Linked DNA regions of Homo sapiens. The protein of the gene in region 2 interacts with the protein of the main gene of each other region in a pairwise test. Each region holds a gene or a part of one and is shown on either strand. Other genes may lie near its edges.

The links.
Region 1: the proteins of APBA2 (region 2) and LRP8 interact in a two-hybrid assay, tested with the Homo sapiens proteins (one study listed by BioGRID).
Region 3: the proteins of APBA2 (region 2) and APEX2 interact in binary tests that used the Homo sapiens proteins (3 or more experiments, as listed by UniProt).

Annotation. Positions count from the first base shown.
Region 1 is NC_000001.11:53,321,451-53,325,197, reverse strand, and holds part of LRP8 (low-density lipoprotein receptor-related protein 8 isoform 1 precursor), read left to right. Parts: intron 1-3,747. UniProt on the Homo sapiens protein: Cell surface receptor for Reelin (RELN) and apolipoprotein E (apoE)-containing ligands. LRP8 participates in transmitting the extracellular Reelin signal to intracellular signaling processes, by binding to DAB1 on its cytoplasmic tail.
Region 2 is NC_000015.10:28,888,894-28,892,640, forward strand, and holds part of APBA2 (amyloid-beta A4 precursor protein-binding family A member 2), read left to right. Parts: intron 1-3,747. UniProt on the Homo sapiens protein: Putative function in synaptic vesicle exocytosis by binding to STXBP1, an essential component of the synaptic vesicle exocytotic machinery. May modulate processing of the amyloid-beta precursor protein (APP) and hence formation of APP-beta.
Region 3 is NC_000023.11:55,003,330-55,007,076, reverse strand, and holds part of APEX2 (DNA-(apurinic or apyrimidinic site) endonuclease 2), read right to left. Parts: intron 3,279-3,747; coding exon 3,209-3,278; intron 560-3,208; coding exon 1-559. UniProt on the Homo sapiens protein: Functions as a weak apurinic/apyrimidinic (AP) endodeoxyribonuclease in the DNA base excision repair (BER) pathway of DNA lesions induced by oxidative and alkylating agents.

The DNA.
Region 1 (3,747 bases), on a different chromosome or scaffold from region 2:
TTTCCCAGTGCTGTTGAGGTTATGAAAATGGCTGTGCCTTGGTAAAATATTGCAGTGAGTTTCCTCACTGGGAGTTGTTCTGTGGTCTCCTTAGAGTGGGAGTACTGAGGACGAGGCAAGGAATAGAAACTGCGTGTCTGGGCTGGTTATGCCTTATCTCCCTGGCTCTTTATAACAACTGTCCTTGTGAGGATGGCTGTGAAAAGCAGAAATTTTCTTGTCATTCTACTTTCTAGATAAGGATGCCTCCTCAGAGAAGTTGAGTGACTTATGCAAGGTCACACAGCTCAGGATGACAGAACTTGGTCAGGATCTCTGCCTGCCTCGAGTTCAGGGCACTGTCTGCTGAGGTGGGGAGTGTGGTGCGGAAAGCACCAGGAGTGTGATCTAGGAGCTGGAAAGACGGGCTTTAAATGTTAGGCCTGGTGCGTTTCAGCTCCATGTGAGGCTTTGGACGAGATGGAGGAGTAAAGTAGCTGGGTGCTGAGTGACGCTCAGGTGGGCCAAGAGAGCTCCAATGGCCAAGCTGGGCTCCTGCATGGCTCTGAGATGCATGGGGTAGAGTCATAGGCAGGGAGTTATTAAACAAAAGTGAATGACGTCAAGCTTGGAGTGGAAAGGGTGGCGGCGCTGCTGATAGTACCAAGTAGTAATCACACATGGCTTGGCTTTTCTGAGCTTGTTTCCTCATCTGCCAAACAGGGGCAGCTGTCCCTCCAACGCTGGCTGTGCACATAGACACACAGGGCTGGCAAGAAGGGAACGGATGGATGAGTGTTCCCACCTCCACGGCCTTTAGAAACGGACTCCTGGTAGCCATAAAGGGAAACTGAAGAAACGGAGTGGGGCTTACGTGGCTGTGTTGGGGCCAGGTGCTGGAAAATGTTCTTTCCTCAGCCCTTCCCGCATTCTAGGCCACCTGCCCAGACTGAATTTCTTTGAACTGTTCTCCCTGCAGGAGAGAGAGCTGTTGGCTCGTCCCTGAGGAGCTCTTTATTAAACCTGGGATGGAGGGGTGATAGGTGCTGGGATAACAAAATCTGCTCCTCCCTGAGCAGTCTCCGTGCCTTACCCCTGACCACCCTCTTTGGCACACCACCCTGCAAGAGGGCTTGAGCTGCCCCACCTTTGTACATCTCTGGGCCTGCAAAATGGGGGTTGGAATTTGTAGATAGAGTCTGCGTGAGGCAAAATGAGTCCAAGTTCCCAAAGGGGCCAGAATGCAGCCCCTGAATACCAAGAGGCTGGAAGGAGGGAACTTTTAAGGAAGCCAAGAAAGGCTTCCTGGAGGAGGAGACTGCTGAACTAGGCCTGAAAGATGGTAACTAATAGCATTCCCCCAGAGTTTACCATTTAAAAACAGGTGGTATTGTTCCTATATTATAGAGGACATAGGCTTGGAGAGGTGAAGTGACTCCCCCAAAGTCACAGAGCTCCTCAGGGTTGGAGCTGGAACTCAAACTGAGGCCTTCTAAGTCCCGAGCCTCATCCACAGTGGCTGGGACTTGGCTCTTTGGAGACACAGATGGAGCTTGCGGGATGGAAGAGGGAAAAGCTCCTGGGGCTTTAGTTCTCAGCTCAAAGAACCTTCAAAGTGGAGGAAGGAGCTGGAAGCTAGAGAGCCAGGCCCAAGGAAGCCCAGCCAGGGGAAGTCGGGTGGGATTCCTGGCTGTGGGCCTGGGTCACGTAGGCCAGCTGGCCCCTGGGCCTCAGTTTCCTGTTGCTCCCTAGTGTCTGGGGGCAGAGGCAGAGATTCCGGTCTCTGGCCTGGCCTTTACTCCCAGAGTCACAACAGTAACCATAGCGCCGATGAACGCTGTCTGGGCACTTGCTGTGGACCGGGCATCGTGCTGAGATTGTCCACACATCGCCCCTCGTTCCTCTATTCTATAAAATGGGGCAACACTATGAAGTACCTGAAATAGTCCTATCTCATCGAGGCACAGACGGGTTACGTAACTGGCCCAAGGGTGTAGAACTGCTGGGGTGTGAATGCGGGTGACCAGCTATGGAACTTGTACTGTCTCAAGTACTGGCTGGTGACTTAGGTAGGTCCTTCCCAGGCCTTCATTTCCCTGTCTTGAGATGACATCTTAAGGCTACTCCACCTCGCTTCCTCCTCTAGGAAGTTCTGTGCTTCTCGCGGAAAGGCTGGGTAGACAGGTGGACCAGTTTTGTGCTCACTGACCTCGACTTTGTTCAGGCTTCTTTGGACTCTTTTGTTATCCCAGCACCCATCACCCCTCCATCCCAGGTTTAATAAAGAGTGGCCACAGGGAGGTCTCCCATGGCTGAGAGTTCATTAGCTGGGCAAGGCCAGGCTGCAGGAGTGCTGAGTCTTGCTGGGAAACAGCCTCATAAATAATTAAAGCTCGGCCACAGCTCCCTGCCTGTGCTGTAGCCCGCATCTGGCCCTCAGTGTGCGGCCTGGACGTGTGCTCCTGACACTGGACCCAGCCTCATCTCCTTCGTGGATGGAGCCATCTGACGACAGTGTGGCTCCTTTCTGAACCTCCCCGTCTTCACCTGACCGGGCAACTCCACCATCCAGAGTCCTCCTGGGGCTCCCAACTATCCAGAGAATAAAGTCAGTGTAGACTCCTCTGTATTTGGCCCTCTGTGACCTGCTCCTGTTACCCACTTCCCTGCAACCTCTTCCCGCCTCTTCCTGTGAGCCTGTGACACCAAATTAGCTTCTGCCACACTCTCACCCTCCTGCTGCTTCTCACCTCCAGGCCTTTGTGTGTGCTATTCCTCCTGCCGGACACCCTGCTCCCTCACTGGCTGGATTCATTTTATCATCCTAAGAGATCCGGTGCAGGTGTCACCTCCTCTAGGAAGCCTTCCCTGACACCCCATTGCCTCCAGGCTGAGATACAGGATTTGAGTTACTTAGAGACCCATGTCAAAGTCACAACTCAGACACACCTGGTTTTTACATCCCAGCTGTCGCCTCCTGGATGAATGGTTGTGAGGATGATACTAGGCCCTCCTTTTCGGAGATTAAATGTGAGGATTAAATGAGGTCACATGCCTGGTAAGCAGGAGGTGTTCAGTGAATGGCAGTGGGTGAGGTTGTTCTTGGTGGGAGGGGTTTCACTGAGGTCTCTAGGTACCTGACGTCTGGTCTTTGCAGGCCAACCCGGACCCCTTGCTTCCCCTGCTCCTGTCTGCTTAGCCAGATGTCGAGGTTCCTGCAGCTGGTGCTCGCCTCAGCCAGGGAGTTGCCCAGCCACCGTAGAGGTGACAGAAAGCTGCTTGGAAAGGAGCTGGGGGAAGAAATGAGTCAAACAGGCCTAGGGCCCTAGGAGGGGCAGCGGATGGCTTCCCTCTGGCTGTGTGCTGGTCCTAGAGGCTGGCTTCTGTCCTGTCTGCTCCTTTCCTCTTGGCTGTGCCTGGGGAGGAGAGGAGGGCCTGCATCCCCCATGGCACTGCCCAGCAGGCCCTAGCAGGCCTTGGGAGTGTTTGCTGAAGACTTTCCCTTGGGCCCTCCCAGGTCAGCATTCCCCGGTGTGAGTCCCTTGGGCCTCAGGGATGGTTGGCTTCTTCCTCCCCAGTTGTCTGCTGGTGGCCGACTTGACAACTTTCCTCCTTGGGGAAATGCTGGTAGCAGGTGAAGCCAGAGAGAGAGAGACCCCCAGGGGGCAGTGAGGAGCGAGAGCCCAGAGGGCGGATGGAACAGGCACGCCCTTGAAGGAAGTAAATGCATGCATGCTCTCCCAGCACCAGGTTAGTGGTCTACTCCCA
Region 2 (3,747 bases):
CTCCCCGATGTAGGTCAAGTTTGAGATGGTTGCTCACCAGGAGGCAGCCTGTGTGCCCGGTGGGGGCTGGGGGTGAAGTTTGAGAGGGTTGCTCACCAGGAGGCAGCCTGTGTGCCCAGCGGGGGCTGGGGGTGCTCTTTGTTCCCTTGGGTGGTGGTTGGCCCGAGTGCCCACAGGGAGGCTTCTCTGGCTCCTTCGTTTCCCAGAGTTCCTCCCCAACCCCCTGCCGCCCACCGCCTGGGTTGGGTCCAGCTCGTGTCTCAGAGCAGCCTGCTGGCACAGGCTGAGTCAGCTGTCGTGGGCACCGTCTTTTCTCGCCTCCCCTGAAGCCAATCTTCCCCTCTCTCCCTGTCCAGACACACAAGGGAGCCCTGGGAGGTAGGTGACCTCAAGATCATGCAGCCAGGCTCACTCTGTGGAACCCTACGTACTGGTGGGGTGCCACTGCTGTGTGCATTGTGATTTCTGTGCTGGCTGTGAGGTTTCCCAGGTTGGGGGCTGTGGGGTACTCCTGACTCTGCAAGTTGGCCCAGGCCAGGTGTGTCACCATTGCCCAGGCCTTCAGTGGCTTTCCAGTGCTCCCTCCACATCCACGTTACTCGGCTGGATTTTCTCAAGTTCCCCCACTTGCTCCCAAGAATGGCCCCTCCAGGCTGCCCTGGCTCCAGGCAGACAGGCTTACTGCCCAGATCTGCCCTGGGTTGTCCCCACCCCATCCCCACCTGTCATCTTGGCGCATGTCCATCCTGGAGATCCCAACTGAATGTGGGCTCTTTCCCTCTTATTCCTTGGTCCTCAGATTTGTCAGGCCACTCTTGCCTCAGGGCCTTTGCACCTGCTGTTCCCACCCCCTTGGCATGAGCCACCCCCAGATGCTCACATGGCTGGCCCCTCACTTATTGCCCACTCCCTGAAAGCCCTACATAAATTGGCTTTGTTAACCTTGCTTTGTGTTTCTCTTGTTAACCTTGCTTTGTGTTTCTCCTTAGTACTCACCATTCAGTGTGTTATTTATTTACTTGTTTGTTTATTGTCAGTCTCTTACCACTCAATTGTAAAAGACTTTGTTCACCTCTGGATCCCCAGTAGCTAGAAAAGTGCCTGGCACACAGCAGAGCCTTAGCGCTGTTGTTGGATGAGTGAGTGAACGAAACACGGGAGCAGTAGTCTCCTTGCAGCACATGTCCTGCTCCCTGTGCCTCCTTTTCCCGCGTCCCAGAGCTGGAACCTAGCTGTGTTCACATTTGGATCCTCCTGGCATGTAGCACAGACCCTCACTCAGTGGGCAGTCAGGAAAGAGCTGTAGAATTGTACAGTGCAACGTCAGTTTCACATAGGCCAGAGGAGAATGTGTTTGGGAAGGTAAGCAGCCCAAAGAGTGAGCTTTCTGATTCTGCACTAAGATTCCTTTTTGGATTTTCAGTTGTTTGGGTTCTCTGCACCCAGGCGGTCCCTGCTGCCAAAGTCAGCTCTGTGTCTCCCTGCAGTCACCTCGGATGTGGATGCACTTTGGAAGGAGGCACCCCCACGCCCAGATTCCCTTCCCACTCCATCTGGATCTTTCCAAACTTGTCTTGTATGTAATGTCAGACTCTGTCCCAGGGCTCCCAGCCACTCTGCTTTACCTTCCAGAAGCCTCCGCCTGCCTGACTGTCTCTTGCCTGTGTCCTGGCCTAGTTGGAGGAGATGCTTTAGTTTTATGAGAAAGGGACTGGGAGGTTGGAAAAGAGGATGGGATTTGGAGTAACAGGAGCTCAGTTCCAGCCTGGCCCTGCCACTAATCCCTGGGGCCCAGGGCCAGTCACCTGGCTTGAGAGTCTTTCTCAGCATCTGCAATACACGCACGAGGCCTCTTGCCTGCGGTTGTTTTGAGGCACAAATGAGATGCAATATTTAACTGATGCAAGATATTTTATGACAGCAAGTCATTTGGTGTGGCCACGTAGCCTTGGGCCTGTGTGGCTTCTCTTACTGTCCTGAGAGTTTTAAGGGTCAGGTTTGTGAGTTACAGCTACGGCCTAGTGAGAGAATGCAGAGGAGGCACGTCATAAACTCTAAGGGGCTGTTTTAATATAAGGTGCTATGTCTGTTGTTTTGTGTTTCAAGGATCAAAGTTAAGAGAAAAAAAATATGTGGTTGAACTTCCTGCATTGAGTGACTGAAAATATTTTCATCTCTAGTTTTCTGGAAACGGAAACACTCCAACATTTGAAGATGGTTTTGATGGCGAAACCACTGGAATGAAATGCACATCATTGGGCAATTCTGTGTGTTGAGTTTCATCCTTCTTTGTTTGTCATTTTAAATAATTTCCCGACAAATCTGGAAGGCACGTCTTGTCTTAACTTTGCAACAAGGAGGCTGGGGACAGGTAGCTGAGCTGTGGGTTGCCTAAGAACACTCTGCTGTGACGGGGCAGTGCTGGCCTTTGAGCCTGAGCTGGAGAGAGTGTGAGGCCCATGTTTTCTCCCTGTCTCCTGCTGGGGCCCATTTTGTATCAGATTTGTTTTTCACGGGGTGGGCATGACTAGGACTCGTGACCACTGGTGGGCAAGTACAGAGGCTAATTTTCAACACGTGCCGAGAGACTGATGGCTGGCATCAGAGAGTCATGGAAATGCCACAGATGACATGGGCCCTTCACAGGGATGGGGAGAGGGTCTGGGAGCTTGCCCTCCAGGAAGGTGGCTGACATGGTTGGTGGGACATGAAGGTGTTTTCCGTTTTGCACTTGAAGCCAACATGGATTCTTAGCACTTGTTGTCCCTAGAATCAACTGCGCAGAGAGATGCTTGGTTCTGAAACTCTCAGGCAAGGACAGTTCTGAGGAAACTCTCATTAGTAAATAGTGAGTCGGAGAACACTATTGACATTTGGCATTTTCAGTTGAGATATATGTGTACAGTCATGCGTCACATGACAGTGTTTTGGGGAATGATAGCATATATGACAGAGGTCCCATAAGATTATTATGGAGCTGAAAAATTCCTATTGCTTAGTGACATTGTCGTAAAGTTGTAGTGCAGTTACTTTATTTTTTAAAAAAATTTAATGTAGCCTAAGTGTACAATATTTATAAAGTCTACGCTAGTGTACAGATGGACTCACCCAGAGAAATTTCCAGTCTTGCAAGCTCCATTCATGGTTAGTGTCCTAGATGGGGTACTGTGTTATATATAATATATATATATGTTTTTTTGAGACGGAGTCTCGCCCTGTCACCCAGGCTGGAGTGCAGTGGCTCAATCTCAGCTCACGGCAAGCTCTGCCTCACGGGTTCATGCCATTCTCCTGCCTCAGCCTACCGAGTAGCTGGGACTACAGGCACCTGCCACCACGCCTGGTTAATTTTTTTGGATTTTTAGTAGAGACGGGGTTTCACTGTGTTAGCCAAGATGGTCTCGACCTCCTGACCTCATGATCCGCCCACCTCGGCCTCCCAAGGTGCTGGGATTACAGGCGTGAGCCACCACGCCTGGCCCATGTTTTATCTTTTATACCATATTTTTACTGTGCCTTTTCTATGTTTAGATAGATACTTGTGTTACAGTTGCCCACAGTATTCAGCGTGGTAACATGCTGCCCAGGTGTGTAGCCTGGGAGCAATGGCCTGTAACCTATAGCCAAGGTGTGGAGTAGGTTTGTATAAAGTATGCTCTATGATGTTTGCACAATGATGAAATTGCCTAATGACAAATTTCTCAGAACACATCCCTGCCATTAAGCGATGCATAACTGTGTGTATAT
Region 3 (3,747 bases), on a different chromosome or scaffold from region 2:
AGGGCTGAAAGTAGCTCTTCAGGTTTTTCTGGCCTCTGCTAGAGCCAACCTGACTGGGCTGAGGCCTGGTTGAGCGCACTTGGGCTTTGTTTTGGCATGTCTGTACCCGGGTTTGATTGTTGTGCTGCAGCGTCGACTGCTCCAACACAGGACTTTGTTCGAGAGGAACTAGGAAGCGAAGGATCTTGAGCTGGGTGCCTGCAAACTCAGGGAGGAAGCGGGTGCACAGAGGTGGGCACTGTTTTGCAGGCACAGAGGACACACTCAAGACTGCACCCACAGGGCAGTGGTCAGAGCCCATCACCTCAGGCAGCAGGAAAGAGGCCTGAAAGGTGTCTATGACCAGGGTCCTGTCCCCCAGCACATAGTCAAGCCGGGAGCCATAGTTGAGATGGCGGGCGCCAGTGACTGCTGACCAGCAGGTGAAGGCCCCCTCCTGCTTTGGTTGGAAGCAGCGGTAGCTATCGATGAAGGGCCCTACATGAGAGGCAGACTGGCACCCCAAGTTACTGAGCAAGCTGTCCATCCACTTGCGCCCTGGGTCCTCTTCAAAGCATTCCTAGGTGAGGAGGAAAGGGGGTTGGAAGAGAGAGAGACAGAACTAGATACCTAGAACTGGAAGGGACTTAGACTAACTGCTGCATTTTGCAAATAAGAAAATTTGGTTGTCCCAAGAGGACTACTGCTCAAGGTCACACAGTCCGGAATTGGCAGAGCTGGGATTCTGATTTTCATCCTTACTGATTTAAAAGACCATGCTTGTTTTTCCCTCTGCACGAGCTTGCATTTGTCTTGCATTGGTCCGTCAATGGCAAATCTGAAAGTTTGCTTACTCAAAGCAATTCCTGGAACTGCTTTTCAAAAGGATGGAAAACAGGAAGTTAAAAGTGTTTGCCTCTAGGAAGCAGGGCTGGGGTTAAGAGTTAGGAAGACTGTCAGCTTCTTCCTTTAAACCCTCTGGCACTATTTGGTTTATCTAGTGTGTCAAAGCCCTCAATGACCATTCCTACCTCCTGAGCTGAGGACCTGCAAGGATCCAGGTCTGAATACTTCCTTAGGCTCTGATCCCCAATCCATCATCCATCAGTCCATCCATTCAATCCACCTACCCACCCACTCATTCAATGCAAGAAATGTTCATGGAATACCTATTATGTGCCATGCATGATGCCAGGGACAAAGTAGGAACCTGATCTACTCCTGGGGACCAAGGAGGCTTCCTTTCGAGAAGTGATCTGGAGCTGAGGTGTGGGGGCTGAGTAAGAGTAACCTAGGTGGAGGGTGCTCCTAACTTTAAGAACAGTCTCTGTGCTGGGCCTGTGGAGGGAGTGTGCTGCGTACCCAAAAGACTTGAGGAAAGACCAGACTGGAGACCAGAATACCAGCAGGAAATGGCTGCCATAGTCACACAAGCAAGATGATGGTCACTTGGACTAGGGTGGGTGCCAGAGGAGACAGAAACATGAAATTATGAGATGATTTGTAGCTAGAATCAACAGTACTTGCTGACTAACTGAATGTGGGAAGTGGAGTAAGAAAGAAAGACAATACTAGCACAATTCCCAGGCTTTAAGTTGAAGCAATCAAGGGGATGATGGTGCCATTTACAGAAATGACAAGACTAAAAGAGCAAGCCTGGTAGAAAGTGGGTATGTTCTGCTATTTTGGAAAGACTGTGTAAGTCATCTGAGCTGGCACTATTAGTTCTCTTTTCCTGGAGGAGAAAATGAAAGAGGTATACATAAGAGATCTAGGATACCTCTGAACTAAGTAGAAAAGGCACAAAGATGTATGATGCTATCACAGGAATCTGAAAGAACACACTGAATGAATGCATAAGAGGAATGAGGCAGGGAGGGACTGAAGGCTCACACTTTGTAGCATTATCTCCGCTCCCCACCACACCACCACCACCATTCTCTCATTCTCTCACTTCTGCTCATTTTCCCAGCTGGGAGCCATATCTACATTTATGTAGCTCTTCTGTGAATTAATCAAGGAATATTCCCACGGTCCCTTCTCTAAGCCAAGCCCAGTGCTGAGTAGGACTGTACCAGCATAAATCACTGATCCCCCATCGTGAGACATAAGGCAAGAAAAGATGAGAGCTGGCTTGTGGATTCTAGGGCAGTGGTTCTCAAGCCTGGCTGCACAATAAAGTCACACTGGGGGCTTTTAGAACGTGCCACTACCCTGGCCCCACACTCGAGAGTTCTGAGTTCATTGATCTGGAGTAGTGCTAAGATATTGATATTTTTGTTCTAATATGCAGTTAGGGGCTGAAAACCATGGGCCTAGGGGAACTTAGAGATAAGAGGTTCATATAACAAAAAGACAGGGAGGGGGTCATGTCCACCAATTCAGGGCACAGTGAGAAAAGCCAGAATGAGAATAACTTTTACAACGGGCCGACAGGAGACAACCTGTCTAGAGAGGACAAAATGTGTAGGGACACTGAAGGTGGAAATAAGAGACAGGTCACAGACCAAGGAGAGCCTTGAATGCTAGGTCTCCATGTTTTCTCTGCATCACAGAGGTAACAGGGAGGTACTGAAAGTTCATAAACAAGAAATACAGTGTATTAAGGAAATGACCAAGGCAATGTGGAATTCACAGTCCTTGAAATCTGACCCCCAACAACTCTCCAGCCCCACCTTCTGCCACTCACCTCCCTTCCTGTGTCACTAAGAAGAAAGGGACTTGTGGTTCCCCATGCACACAATGCAAATTCTCACCTTGAAACCTTTGCCCATGCTAGAATGCTTTCTACTTCAAAGCTCTGTTCTACTCATCTGTTAAGATTCAGCCATTTTCAGCTGCCTGTCCTGATGTCCGAGCTCACCTAGGAATCCCATCTCTGAGCTCCTGTAGCTTTCTGGGATGCCATCTGTGCCTCTGCCCTGAGAATACCATCCTATAATTGGCTAGCCATGTGTCTGTAGCCCACCACCATGCTGGAGAGCTCCTAGGAGCCAAGGGCTGGATCTGACTCCTGAGTCCTCAGTATGTGGCTCAGGGCCAGGCCATGGGCAGAGTCAGTATTGTCTATTGAATGAATGACCAATCCTCAGTACTATAAGAATAGTATTGCAAGCCAAGCTCCGCTTTCCCATAAAGGAAGCTGTCCCTGGGCCAAAAACTCAGGGTTGGTTGGCTGGACAAACAGAATCAGTCAGGAGTGGGGCCAGGCACCTAGAGGGAGCCTTACCAGGTTGACTGCATCCCAGTGGTCAATGGGGCGGTGGGCTGTATTCAGGTCACCCAGAATGATCACATGGCTGAAAAACACAATGTGGGATTGTTAGAAAGGGGTGCAGCAGTCCTGGCCCATATACTTTTTCCTGGGCCCAAGAGCTCAGACAGGCCCTCTCCCATATTGAGGCTTCCTAGCCAACAGCAACTCATAACAGCCTACCTCTCCAATCTTACCACAAACTTGCTGCCTTTCATATCTGACCAACCCAATTCTGATCTCCAAAGGTGACAGTGTTCCATGTTTGACATGACTGCCTCACTAATCAGGAGCCAATGGGCATTTTTCTTGTCCTTCAAAGCTGAGCTCAGATACCACCTCCCCTTGATTGCTCTAACCCACCCTCACTTTCCTGTCCTCCGCTGGAACAAGACTTTCCTTTGCTCCCACGCACTTTACCATTCTCATCTCATTTTACCCTTAAAACTATTGTGTAGGGTAGAGATTCATATATTCATTTGACAAAAGAGAAAACAGAGGCAAGACTAGCCCTA